Linked DNA regions of Homo sapiens. The protein of the gene in region 2 interacts with the protein of the main gene of each other region in a biochemical or structural test. Each region holds a gene or a part of one and is shown on either strand. Other genes may lie near its edges. The genes, in order: RXRA, POU2F1 and POU2AF1.

Region 1 (3,649 bases), on a different chromosome or scaffold from region 2:
ACGGTATTTCCAGCCCTGGCTTTTCCATCAGACCGCCCGTGGTGCCGTCTGCATGCTCCCACGGTGATGGGGCACAGACCCCACCGTTCCTCCCTCATTTTGGTTGCACAGCCTGGGGCCAGTTGGGTGCCATCCCTGCCTGGTCTGTCAGCACACCTGGGCGGGGCGGCCTCGGGGGTGGGAACTCCCTCCTGGGGCCCTGGGATTACTCAGTTGTGAAATGGGGAGAATGGGGACGGTGACACCTGCCCCCGGGTTCCCCATGACAGGGTGGGTATGTGCTGGGAGGGTGTGGAGGGCCGAGCCGGAGCTGGCACGGTGGTCCCCACCAACTTCTTGCTGATCACTTACCCCCTCATGCCTCAGTTTCCCCCTCTGTAAAACAAAGTTAATGCCAGTTTTCCAGGATTACAGTTGGGATTAAGTGGGAAATTAATGACAGTGTCGGCCATAGAGGCTGGAGCCTCTAGAGCGCTCAGGGAGTGTGGAAGGTGCTGAAGGTGACTGTGTGACTGCAGGTGACTCCATGTCACCCTGTCTATAAGAGCTGTTAAAACAGCAGTGCGTGTGTGCGCGAGGGTCCCTGACTGTGTGACTGCAGGTGATTCCACGTCACCCGGTCTCCAGGAGCCCTTAAAACAGCAGTGCGTGTGCACGCGAGGGTCCCTGTTTCTTCCTCCCCGATGCCTGCTCTGCTTCATCTGCACTGGAACCTCATGTTGAGGGGCTGCTGTTACCTAACTGTCTGCCCCCCAGGGAACCCCCACTATGTTGAGAGGCTGCTGTTACCTAACCACCCGCCCCAGGGAACCCCCACTGTGTTGAGGGGCTGCTGTTACCTAACCACCTGACCCCCAGGGAACCCCCACTATGTTGAGGGGCTGCTGTTACCTAACTGTCCCCCAGGGAACCCCCTGATGTTGAGGGGCTGCTGTTACCTAACTGTCTGCCCCCCAGGGAACCCCCACTATGTTGAGAGGCTGCTGTTACCTAACCACCCGCCCCAGGGAACCCCCACTATGTTGAGGGGCTGCTGTTACCTAACCACCCACCCCCCAGGGAACCCCCCGATGTTGAGGGGCTGCTGTTACCTAACCACCCGCCCCAGGGAACCCCCACTATGTTGAGGGGCTGCTGTTACCTAACCACCCGCCCCAGGGAACCCCCACTATGTTGAGGGGCTGCTGTTACCTAACCTTCCCCCCTGGGAATCCCCCCGAAAGAGGCTGCGGCTCTCACGCACCTGCCTTCAGTTGGATAACCTGCTGTTTGGTGGCATTCCACGAAGGGCACACAGATCCCCGAGAGTCCTGGGACCCTGCTGGCAGCAGTGGTTCTGGGGCCATCCTGGGAACATCCCTGGGTGCTCTCCCACGTGCTCCGTGGCAGGAGTGTCCTGCACACGCGGGAGGAAGCTTCTGGGGCACATGAGTTTGTGAGCTCCCGGGTTCCACAAAGCTCAAGGGACTTTGTGTGGGACTTCTCAGGGCCTTTCGTGTGCCGGTGTGTACTGTAGAACGGGCATTCTCAGGAACCTCTTTTCTGTGGAACACTTCATGGGATTGGGGTTCCAGAGCCTGTCAGGATGGGTCGGTGACATGCTGCCTCTGTAGGGTCCCACCAGGGGCTGGGGAAGGGGCGAGCCCCGTGGGGCCTGGAGACAGCTGAGTGACTGTGTGCCTCCTCCCCAGGCTGGAATGAGCTGCTCATCGCCTCCTTCTCCCACCGCTCCATCGCCGTGAAGGACGGGATCCTCCTGGCCACCGGGCTGCACGTCCACCGGAACAGCGCCCACAGCGCAGGGGTGGGCGCCATCTTTGACAGGTGGGGGTGGTCCCGGGAGGGGCGAGGGCGCTTCGGTCACCTCCGCCACCAGGCCAGCTGAGTTCAGCCACCTTGGCCCCGGTGCACATCCTGCCTAGTATTATTTCAGTGCATGAAGGGTGCACACATGGAAAAAGAGAAAAGCATGAGGAGGAGGCTCAGAGCCCTGTGCCAGCCCTGCCTCTGGGGCATCTGTAACCACAGGGAGCACTTGGCCTATCTCCCTCCATCTCTTCTTTTTTCACGATCCCATGTATTTATCCGTGGGAAGGAAAGCTTCGTTTCTTTTTAAAGTGATTATACCGTAGATGCAGTTTTGTAAAAGTGTCAATTCCAGTTGGCATGTCGCAGGCTGCTTGAGGCTGGCACGGTAATGCCGTGGCAGCCCGGGGCGTGGTGCGGCCTAACGCCTGTCCCCGTGCAGGCAGGGGTGTCGGGACCGCAGTGCTTCACACCTCCCAGTGGAGCAAAGGGCTGCACCTCAGCCACTTCTCAGGGGACACACTGGAGGAGCAGCACTGGCTGGAGGGCCCACCCTCGTCCGGGCCTGGGTGGTCCGTGTCCGTTCATGTTGCCCTCCTGGAGTGCTGGCCAACTCCGCTCTGCCAGGCGAGGCGGACAGTAGCTTCCTTGTCCCTGTCTCTGCACAGCCTTTTTTTTTTTGAGATGGAGTCTCGCTCTGTCGCCCAGGCTAGATTGCAGTGGTGCAATCTTGGCTCACTGCAAGCTCCGCCTCCCGGGTTCACACCATTCTCCTGCCTCAGCCTCCCGAGTAGCTGGAACTACAGGCGCCCGCCACCACGCCCGGCTATTTTTTTTGTATTTTTAGTAGAGACGGGGTTTCACCGTGTTAGCCAGGATGGTCTCGATCTCCTGACCTCGTGATCCGCCCACCTCGGCCTCCCAAAGTGCTGGGATTACAGGCGTGAGCCGCCGCGCCCGGCCTCTCTGCACAGTCTTTCTCCACGAGTCTAGAGAGCCACACACACCAGACTGGGCCTTCTGGGGACCGGATGTCAGCTTCAGCTGGAGCGGGAAGGCTGGGGAGGGGCACTGCGGGGTCCCTTGGGCAGGGGTCTGCAACACAGGAGCCGTGGGTGGGGAGGAGCAGGCCACCTGGAGAACGTGGCCCCTGAACACGAGAGCCCCAACGTTAGAGGTGAGTAGAGGCCATGCACCGGCACTTACAGGGGGATTAATGCCCCAGCAGCAATGCCCCAGGGGGTGGTTCAGGTCCCAGAGTCCCAAGGGTGATCCTGGAACTTGACCTCCATGGGATGTGCCAAGTGCAAAAGGGTTTGTGGCCGCAGACGGTGGGCAAACGGTAGTTCAAACAGTGTCCTTGAGGGTCTTTGCCGCAGGACTTGTCAGGGCCTTTAAGAAGTTAGTGTACAGGAGGGTCCCCACGGGGGCTGCAGGGTGCAGTGTGCAGTGTGTATTGCCCACAGAAGCTTCTTTAGAGGGGTACTGGGGATATGGCTTTGGGAAGCGAAGCCCCAGCCACTTGCCCAGCTGACAGATCCTTTGTCTGGCTGGTAGAGAGATGGCGATGACAGAGGTTTCAGGGTTACATTCTCTGGGGTCCCACAGCAGTGACTACAGAGGCCCCGGCATTTCCTCGCCTTTTTTGCGAGTGGAATGCAAAGTCTGCCCTCAGTGGCCCAGGTCTTTTCCATGCCCGCTGCCCCATCCCTCTGCAGCTGTGTGCTCCTGCCTCAGAGCAGACATCGGGGGTCCCTCCCAGCTCCTGTTCTGTCCCACCCTGTTCTCCAGCCTCCTTCAGATCTTCTTCCAGGAATCAACCAGGGCACTCCCCATTCTGCAG
Region 2 (3,649 bases):
TCATATGTTTAAGCACAAATGAGTCGTTTAACACACAGCATATTGTTCATTTTCCAGCCATTCCTGTTTATATCTTCTATTGCAAAGAGAAAGTTCAACAGAGGGGGGGAAACCTGCCATAATAATTATTATTATTGATTTAATTTCATATACCATTTCTATATTCCAACATAAAAAGCATAAAGTTACAAAGAATTATGAAATAAATAATGTGATAAACTGCACTTGCTATGACTTTCAATATTGAAGACTTAGTAAAGCTACTACAAACACTTAGCTTTGTGGAATGTGAACATTGGCTGTTAAAAAAAAGTTAGTATAATGTATCCTCTCCGGATAAATGTCCAGGAGTTCCAGCAGTTTAAAAGAAATCTGGGCCAGGTGTGGTAGCTCATGCCTGTAGTCCCAGCACTTGGGGAGGCCACAGTAGGACTGCTTAAGCCCAGGAGTTTTAGACTAGCCTAGGCAACATAGCAAGACCCCATCTCTTAAAAAAAATTAAAAATAAGAGAAAATAAATGAATAAAAGATAATCTGATAAATCTAGAGGTTTGCTGATTCTTCTTTTGCTCAATTACTAGTCCTGTCAGCAAATGTAGGCAACACTGAAATCTTGAGTGCTTGCTTAATTGGAAATAAATAAATAAATAAATAAAACCCAAAAACAAAAGAGCTCTATTAGTCACTGAGTATACAAAGATACCAATGCTCAAAAAATTCACACCCCATAGTAAAAACACACAGAACCCCATAACCACATGCACTGTATGCAAGGAGCATCTTCAAATCAGAACTTCTGAAACTCAAGACAATTCTCATATTCCAAATTCTAAACATACTGTAAACGGATCAAGTAAGTCAGGCAATAGCTCTACTCAGGCTATTTTTGTTTCCATTGTTATTACTGCTGAAACAGTTTATAAGAGCTCATCACCTGTTTAGAACACAGAAATACTTCGGTACAAAACAAACCAATTTATTCCTAAGAAGAATTAAAATCTACAGTTATTCAATTCTCTTTACTTATGAAATGTCAATAATGCACAAAAATGTCCAGCGAAAGATGCATAAGGAAACTGCTATTCTCTGTGAACCTTAATTATTATCCCTTTCAACCACTCAAAAGGATATTTACATCCTTTAAGCAACACAGTAAGAAGTAAGCAAAATGGTGACTCAAAGTTACCCCAAAAAAAGGAAAAGGAAAAAATTCATGCAGAAAGGGTACAGAAATTCAAAGCAGATATGTCACTGAATCAAATCAACAACTTTCAACTCTAACGCCCAAGAAATAGTAAGTACATTTGCTCAGGCATTTAGCATTTAAGGAGGGATCAGAAACAAGAACATGGATAACCAAAAGGGGGCATGTTTTGTTTGTGACTTGGTCTGTTCCCTAAACGCAAATTACCTGAATAGTTCTAAATTCAAATGCAATCACTTTCATTAGGAAAAACACATTCCTGCTTAAAATCAGGCTTCATAGCAAGTCTTTACTAATCACAAAAACTGTGTAATTAACACAATTATATAAAGGCAAATTAATGAGTCACACAACATTATTTTTAATGGTGCTTGAAAGACTAATATGCAAAGATTACAACTATGGGGTTTCAAAATTAAAAAACAAAACAAAAATAACCGATAACAACAAGGCAATCACTACTACATAATATTACAGTCTTCCAAGTACAAAGGAAACATTCATGAAAATGAGTGACCAACTTAAAAAACACAAATAAATTCAAGATGAAGCAATACAGATTCAAGAAGCAGGTCAAATATTTCAATTTTTAATAGAAAATACTTAAAGATAACATTCAAATTTCCACTTCTGTTATTTCAGAACCACCTGCCTAAGATATTCAAGGGTCTATTAAACATCTTTGGTGGCTTGAGAAGAGCAACGTAACATTTTGAGCCCTGAACTTATTGCAAAATCCACTAACCAGATGAATGGCAGATTGACAATTACTTCAAACTAGGCAGCAATGAAACATATTTTATTTACACTGCTTTATACTACCTATTGATGTAGAGAATAGTAAATTTAAAATATGGCAGAACACTACACCTGAATTCATTTGAACCTGAATAATAGCTACGGTTTGTTTTTTCCTTGTCTACTGGGATTTTTGACAATGACAAAATGAAAGGAATTACAAACTAATTTGAGGGAAGAGGTTAAAAATTGCTTTTACGGTAATGGTTTGGAAGCAGAACAGTCCTTTAGAAATCAAAAACAGTTGGTCAGCTGTCACATGAATTTTCAAGACCTTGATTCAAAAGTATCATTGTAATTAATAGGTGGGAGAGTTAAGAAAGTGACAACGGGCTGGGCATGGTGGCTCACGCCTGTAATCCAGCACTTTGGAAAGCCGAGGCGGGTGGATCCCTTGAGGTCAGGAGTTCGAGACCAGCCTGGCCAACACGGTGAAACCCCGCCTCTACAAAAAATACAAAAATTAGCCGGGCGTCATGGCGCATGCCTGTAGTCCCAGCTACTAAGGAGGCTGAGGCAGGAGAATCACTGGAACCCACGAGGCAGAGGTTGCAGTGAGCCGAGATCGCACCAACGCACTCCAGCCTGGGAGACAGAGCAAGACTCTGTCTGGAAAAAAAAAAAAAAAAAAAAGAAGACAGTGACAATGGATTTCCTAGAAATACGCAGGAAACTACTTGACAGATGCAAAAGGAGACAGGCAGGTTATAAACTCATGTGGGTTCAAAAGTAACCTAAAATACTCTATCAAAATTGGATCACAAATTCAGGTTAGAAATAAAGCAATTTTATCACATTCTCAGGGAATTTTAATCATCACCTTAAAATAAACTAATAATTAAAAATATGAGAAATGTCTTACAAGAAAATCTATTAATATGTCAAAAATTCTAAGTGCAATCACTGTTGCAATGGAACAATTTTAAAATCACTAATCAAAACAAAATGAACAAACTTGTCCAGACTAAGATAAATCCAAAAAGAATTCTGAATTTTTTTTAAAAAATCTGTTTTAAAAGCACATGCTTTCCTGTGAGTATTCTACCTTATTTTCAACATTATCATTTCCACCTTAAAGAATACACAGCCCTCATTCTCAACTCTGCTTTATTCACTGAAATGGATTCTAAGGCAAATGGTCTCTCCATTAGCCTAAGCCATGCTCTGATTAAGAAACACAGTTTCTTATAAAAGTCTGGGGGATCACAACAAACATTTATATGGGTCACTTCTATGACTATCTATCTAAAACCCAAATACTCCATTTGAGAATTTTGAGGAAATGAATTTTTACAATAGCATTAAAAGTGAACCAAAATATAAGGCCAGTTAACAACATCCATCCTTTTCTGTATTACAAAAACTGTAACAGCGAAATTTTGCTTGTAAAATCCAATGTACATTTTATCATTTTGTATAAAATATCTACGGCCTCAGTAGTGATTAAATTGCAGCTATAAAGGAAATTGACCCGAAATAAATGGTTTCCCTATGAGAAGGCTTCACTGCTACACTTCACCTCAGGACAATAAATCAAATTAACTGCACCTTGTCCTCTGTCCAATGACATCATCAGTTTGACCACATCTTGGGAATCGGGTGCAAAAACATATGCTATTTAAGGCATGAAATTATATTGCTGCTTTT
Region 3 (3,670 bases), on a different chromosome or scaffold from region 2:
TCCTTCCTCTAATCACACTGTCTAACATGGGACTGAAAGCTTAGGGGGATCAACTTGATAAGAAATGAAACACTTTGGCACAGAAAAGTCTCTACAAATCTTTATGAAAATGTTTCCATCTTAGCAGAGTAACTCGGGAAGAAACCCAGATGGACTACTACCAAGACATTTGACCTCAAGATAAGAGAAAAAATAGACCATTTATCTTAGCAAACACGTAAAGTACTATATTTCTTTGCTAGTTTTTGCCAACTTTAACTCCTTTACGGAGGTTGCTTCTGCACCCTCTCAAATGGTACGCTGAAAAATCTTGCATAGTGTCTTTTTTTATGGAAAACCAGGGCTTTTAATCAAATAGGACTGAGAGCCCTGCCCACCTACTTACCATCAGTACCGACAAAGATGTAAATGCATCTTCTCAAATGCTGTCTTGAACTTTTAAATCTAAAAAATATCTGAATAAAAACAATTCAAGATTTGTGTACTGGGATTTAAGGCAGGCACAGAGAAATCTGGGTCAAAATTAATCTTAAGCAGAAAAAGAAAATCCAAAACAGACAACTTTCTCCAGAGTTTTTATTTAAAGTGGGCAAAGAAAATATGTCAAAGAAACTGTCATTTCCCAGAAAAGTCATTTCCCAGAAAAGTCCATGACTTCTACATGGATTCTACCAACTGAAATGTCTGCTTAATAGTGACGATGGTGCTATTAGCAGGTGGGTGAGCCAGTTCCCAAGGTACACGTTCACTATCAAGAGCTAAGCACACCTGCTAACAACTCAGTCTCCTACAAACCTGATGTTTCTCCAGCAAAACAAATTAAAATTAAACCTAATGGTACTTCTGGCTGAGGCTCCAGAGGTCCCCAGGAGGGAGGGTGTTTGCGTGGAGGGGGCCTTGGTTCCACAGAATGGTGGCTTATGGACGCTTTTAAGACACTAAAGAAACCCACATGGTAAAAGGCTGGGTGCGGTGGCTCACGCCTGTGATCCCAGCACTCTGAGAGGCTGAGGCGGGCGGATCACAAGGTCAGGAGTTCGAGACCAGCCTGGCCAACATGGTGAAACCCCGTCTCTACTAAAAATACAAAAATTAGCCAGGCATGGTGGCATGCACCTGTAATCCCAGCTACTCGGGAGGCTCAGGCAGGAGAATCACTTGAACTTGGGAGACAGAGGTGCAGTGAGCCAAGATCGCACCATTGTACTCCAGCCTGGGCAATGGAGTGAGACTCCGTCCCAAAAAAAACCAAAAAAAAGAAAGAAAGAGAGAGGAAGGAAGGAAGGAAGGAAGGAAGGAAAGAAGGAAGGAAGGAAGGAAGGAAGGAAGGAAGGAAGGAAGGAAGGAAGGAAGGAAGGAAGGAAAGAAACAAAACCCACATGGTAGCACTAAGCCTAGGCGAGGACCCATCACCTTTAGGCTTAATGGGGTCTTGGCCTCCACAGCACCAGCAGAGGGCCTAGAGGTGAGACAGAAATGGCCGACCAAACACACCCTTCACCCTGTTTACAACAGCCCAACTTCCCTTGCACGTATCCTCAAGGAGAGCAGCAAAACCATCTCTTCAAGCAATGCTTTCCTTTAGTTTATTGTTCTTCTTAATAACCAAGTAATCTGGAGCCAAGTCATTCCTCAGCCTTCCTCCTCCCTGCATCAAACTCAAGCTTCCTCCCACACCCCTCTCTCCAACTAAGATGCACAGCCTGTTCCCATCCCTCCTCTGTCCCTCTCTTCGTCACTGGCCTGTCCCCACCCACCCTGATGTTCTTTTCTCCCTGCCACCCACTTCCCACCCCTTACTACTCTGAGCCCCAGGCCTTGAGATTTTGCTGCCTGGACTGTAAATCTGGCCGAGGCTGAGAAGAGCAAACAAAGGAGCAACTGTGGGAACTGACAGCTCAAGGACTCTGGCATCAGGGTAGGCCCTTGGCTGACTTTCTCAGGAGGTGCTGTCGGGGCTGGTCTTCCCGCCGGCCACCACATACATCTTAAAATTACAGAGGGTGTGAGTGACCCTAAGATGGTTCAGCAGGCACTGGAGGAAGGAGGCCTTTTCCAAGAAATGAAATGTGACAGAAATGAAAGCCCATGGACCACAGACTTGGCAACATTTGACATAAAATGTTATTGCTAAAATCCCTATAATTACCTCCCAAAATGGAACAGAATTGAAAAAAGAAGTAAGAAAGAGAGAAGAAGCGAGGGAGGGAGGGAGGTAAAGAAGGAAAGGGAGAAGGGAAGGAGGGAAGGAAGGGAGGGAGGAAAAGGAAGGAAGGGGTTGGAAAGGGAGAAGGGAAGGAGGGAAGGAAGGGAGGGAGGAAAAGGAAGGAAGGGGTTGGAAAGGAAGAAGGGAGGGAGGGGAAGAATGGAAGGATGGGGGAGAGGGAGGAAGTGAGGGAGGGAGGGGAAGGAAGAAGGGAAGGAAGGTTTACAGGTCTACAATTCTAGCTGTGCGTAGAAAGTGTAGTCATGAAATGACTACTCCAAACAAGCATGAACCTGGGGCTCAATTCCAGGCTCATTTTAAAATCCCAGTTTCAGGGAACAGGACTCAGGTGGGAGCCACGCCTAAAAGCCTTCCACAGAGAGAGTGTGGTTAAGCGCATAGGCGTCGCTATCCTCTTCCTCCAAAAGCAGCTTGTCGATGGTCAACGAGCTGGCGGCTCTTCTGGGGTCTTCCATGTCCTGAAGGACTGGCTCTGGGATAGAGATGGGGAGCTGGACAAACTGGGGCCCAGGTAGGGCTGGGGCCGGAGGCTGGTACTGCAGGGTGGAGGTGGGTAGTGTGGAAAGGGGCTGAGGCCACGGGAAATAGGTGAGGGGTGCCTGGTGCTCTGGGCCCTCCAGCGGGGGCCCCACTGCGGGCGTGGCGGAGCTTCTTGTCTGTGACAGGAAAACACGTGACAGAGGGTTAGCAGCCCCAGGAGACCCATCCACCCATCCTTGCCCTTAGAGGGGTCTCCATCTCCCCCTTCAATTCTGCCCTTTCCTGGTTTCTCACTTCATGGGGCTCCACCTCCTCCTGCTCAAAGTCTTCCCCAAGGGAGGAGCCAGGCTGACTTCAACCGCAGCCCCAATCCTGACCCTTCCTAGCTATATGTCTTTGCTCAGGCCACTTCCTGCTCAGAAGGCTCATTTTTCTCATCTACGAAATAGAATACAAACAGTAATGAACTCATTGGGTTAGGCCAATTAGAGAGGATTTTCCAGGTTTCGTTGAATACAAAATTCATTTCTATTTCAGAGATCTTAAAACATTAAAAATATATGCATCTTAAAATCTGTGAAAATATATGTTAAACCACAGCCTGGAAGCTGTATCTGGAAGGTGGCCACTGTCCTGCCCAGACACAAAGACAGTCCGGGCTCCACACAACAGCTTTGGAGGTCCCCTTGGGCCAACACAGCTCCATCACCTCCCACCCCTCTAGTGGTGGCCAGCATGGGGAGGCCTGGCCATCCCCAGATGGGGGAAGCACTGCTTTGTCAGCAAACTTGGCCTTCCTTCCTGCTGCTGCCTGGTGCCTTCCACATCCTCATCGTCCTCTGTCTCTGAGCTGATCTCCATGGCCATCCCACTTATGGGCACCCCCCATGACCCTCCAAGTGTTAGAGTCCTTCTCCTGAATGCTCTGCGAGTCATACCTCTCACCTGCACGGCGACTGCCCT

What was found.
Region 1: the proteins of POU2F1 (region 2) and RXRA form a complex in vitro, tested with the Homo sapiens proteins (2 studies listed by BioGRID).
Region 3: the proteins of POU2F1 (region 2) and POU2AF1 are reported together in a solved structure, tested with the Homo sapiens proteins (2 studies listed by BioGRID, with this or other methods).

Annotation. Positions count from the first base shown.
Region 1 is NC_000009.12:134,427,417-134,431,065, forward strand, and holds part of RXRA (retinoic acid receptor RXR-alpha), read left to right. Parts: intron 1-1,691; coding exon 1,692-1,824; intron 1,825-3,649. UniProt on the Homo sapiens protein: Receptor for retinoic acid that acts as a transcription factor.
Region 2 is NC_000001.11:167,223,812-167,227,460, reverse strand, and holds part of POU2F1 (POU domain, class 2, transcription factor 1), read right to left. Parts: intron 1-3,649. UniProt on the Homo sapiens protein: Transcription factor that binds to the octamer motif (5'-ATTTGCAT-3') and activates the promoters of the genes for some small nuclear RNAs (snRNA) and of genes such as those for histone H2B and immunoglobulins.
Region 3 is NC_000011.10:111,351,693-111,355,362, forward strand, and holds the end of POU2AF1 (POU domain class 2-associating factor 1), read right to left. Parts: exon of another isoform or gene 2,884-3,670; coding exon 2,569-2,883; 3' UTR 563-2,568; downstream 1-562. UniProt on the Homo sapiens protein: Transcriptional coactivator that specifically associates with either POU2F1/OCT1 or POU2F2/OCT2. It boosts the POU2F1/OCT1 mediated promoter activity and to a lesser extent, that of POU2F2/OCT2. It recognizes the POU domains of POU2F1/OCT1 and POU2F2/OCT2.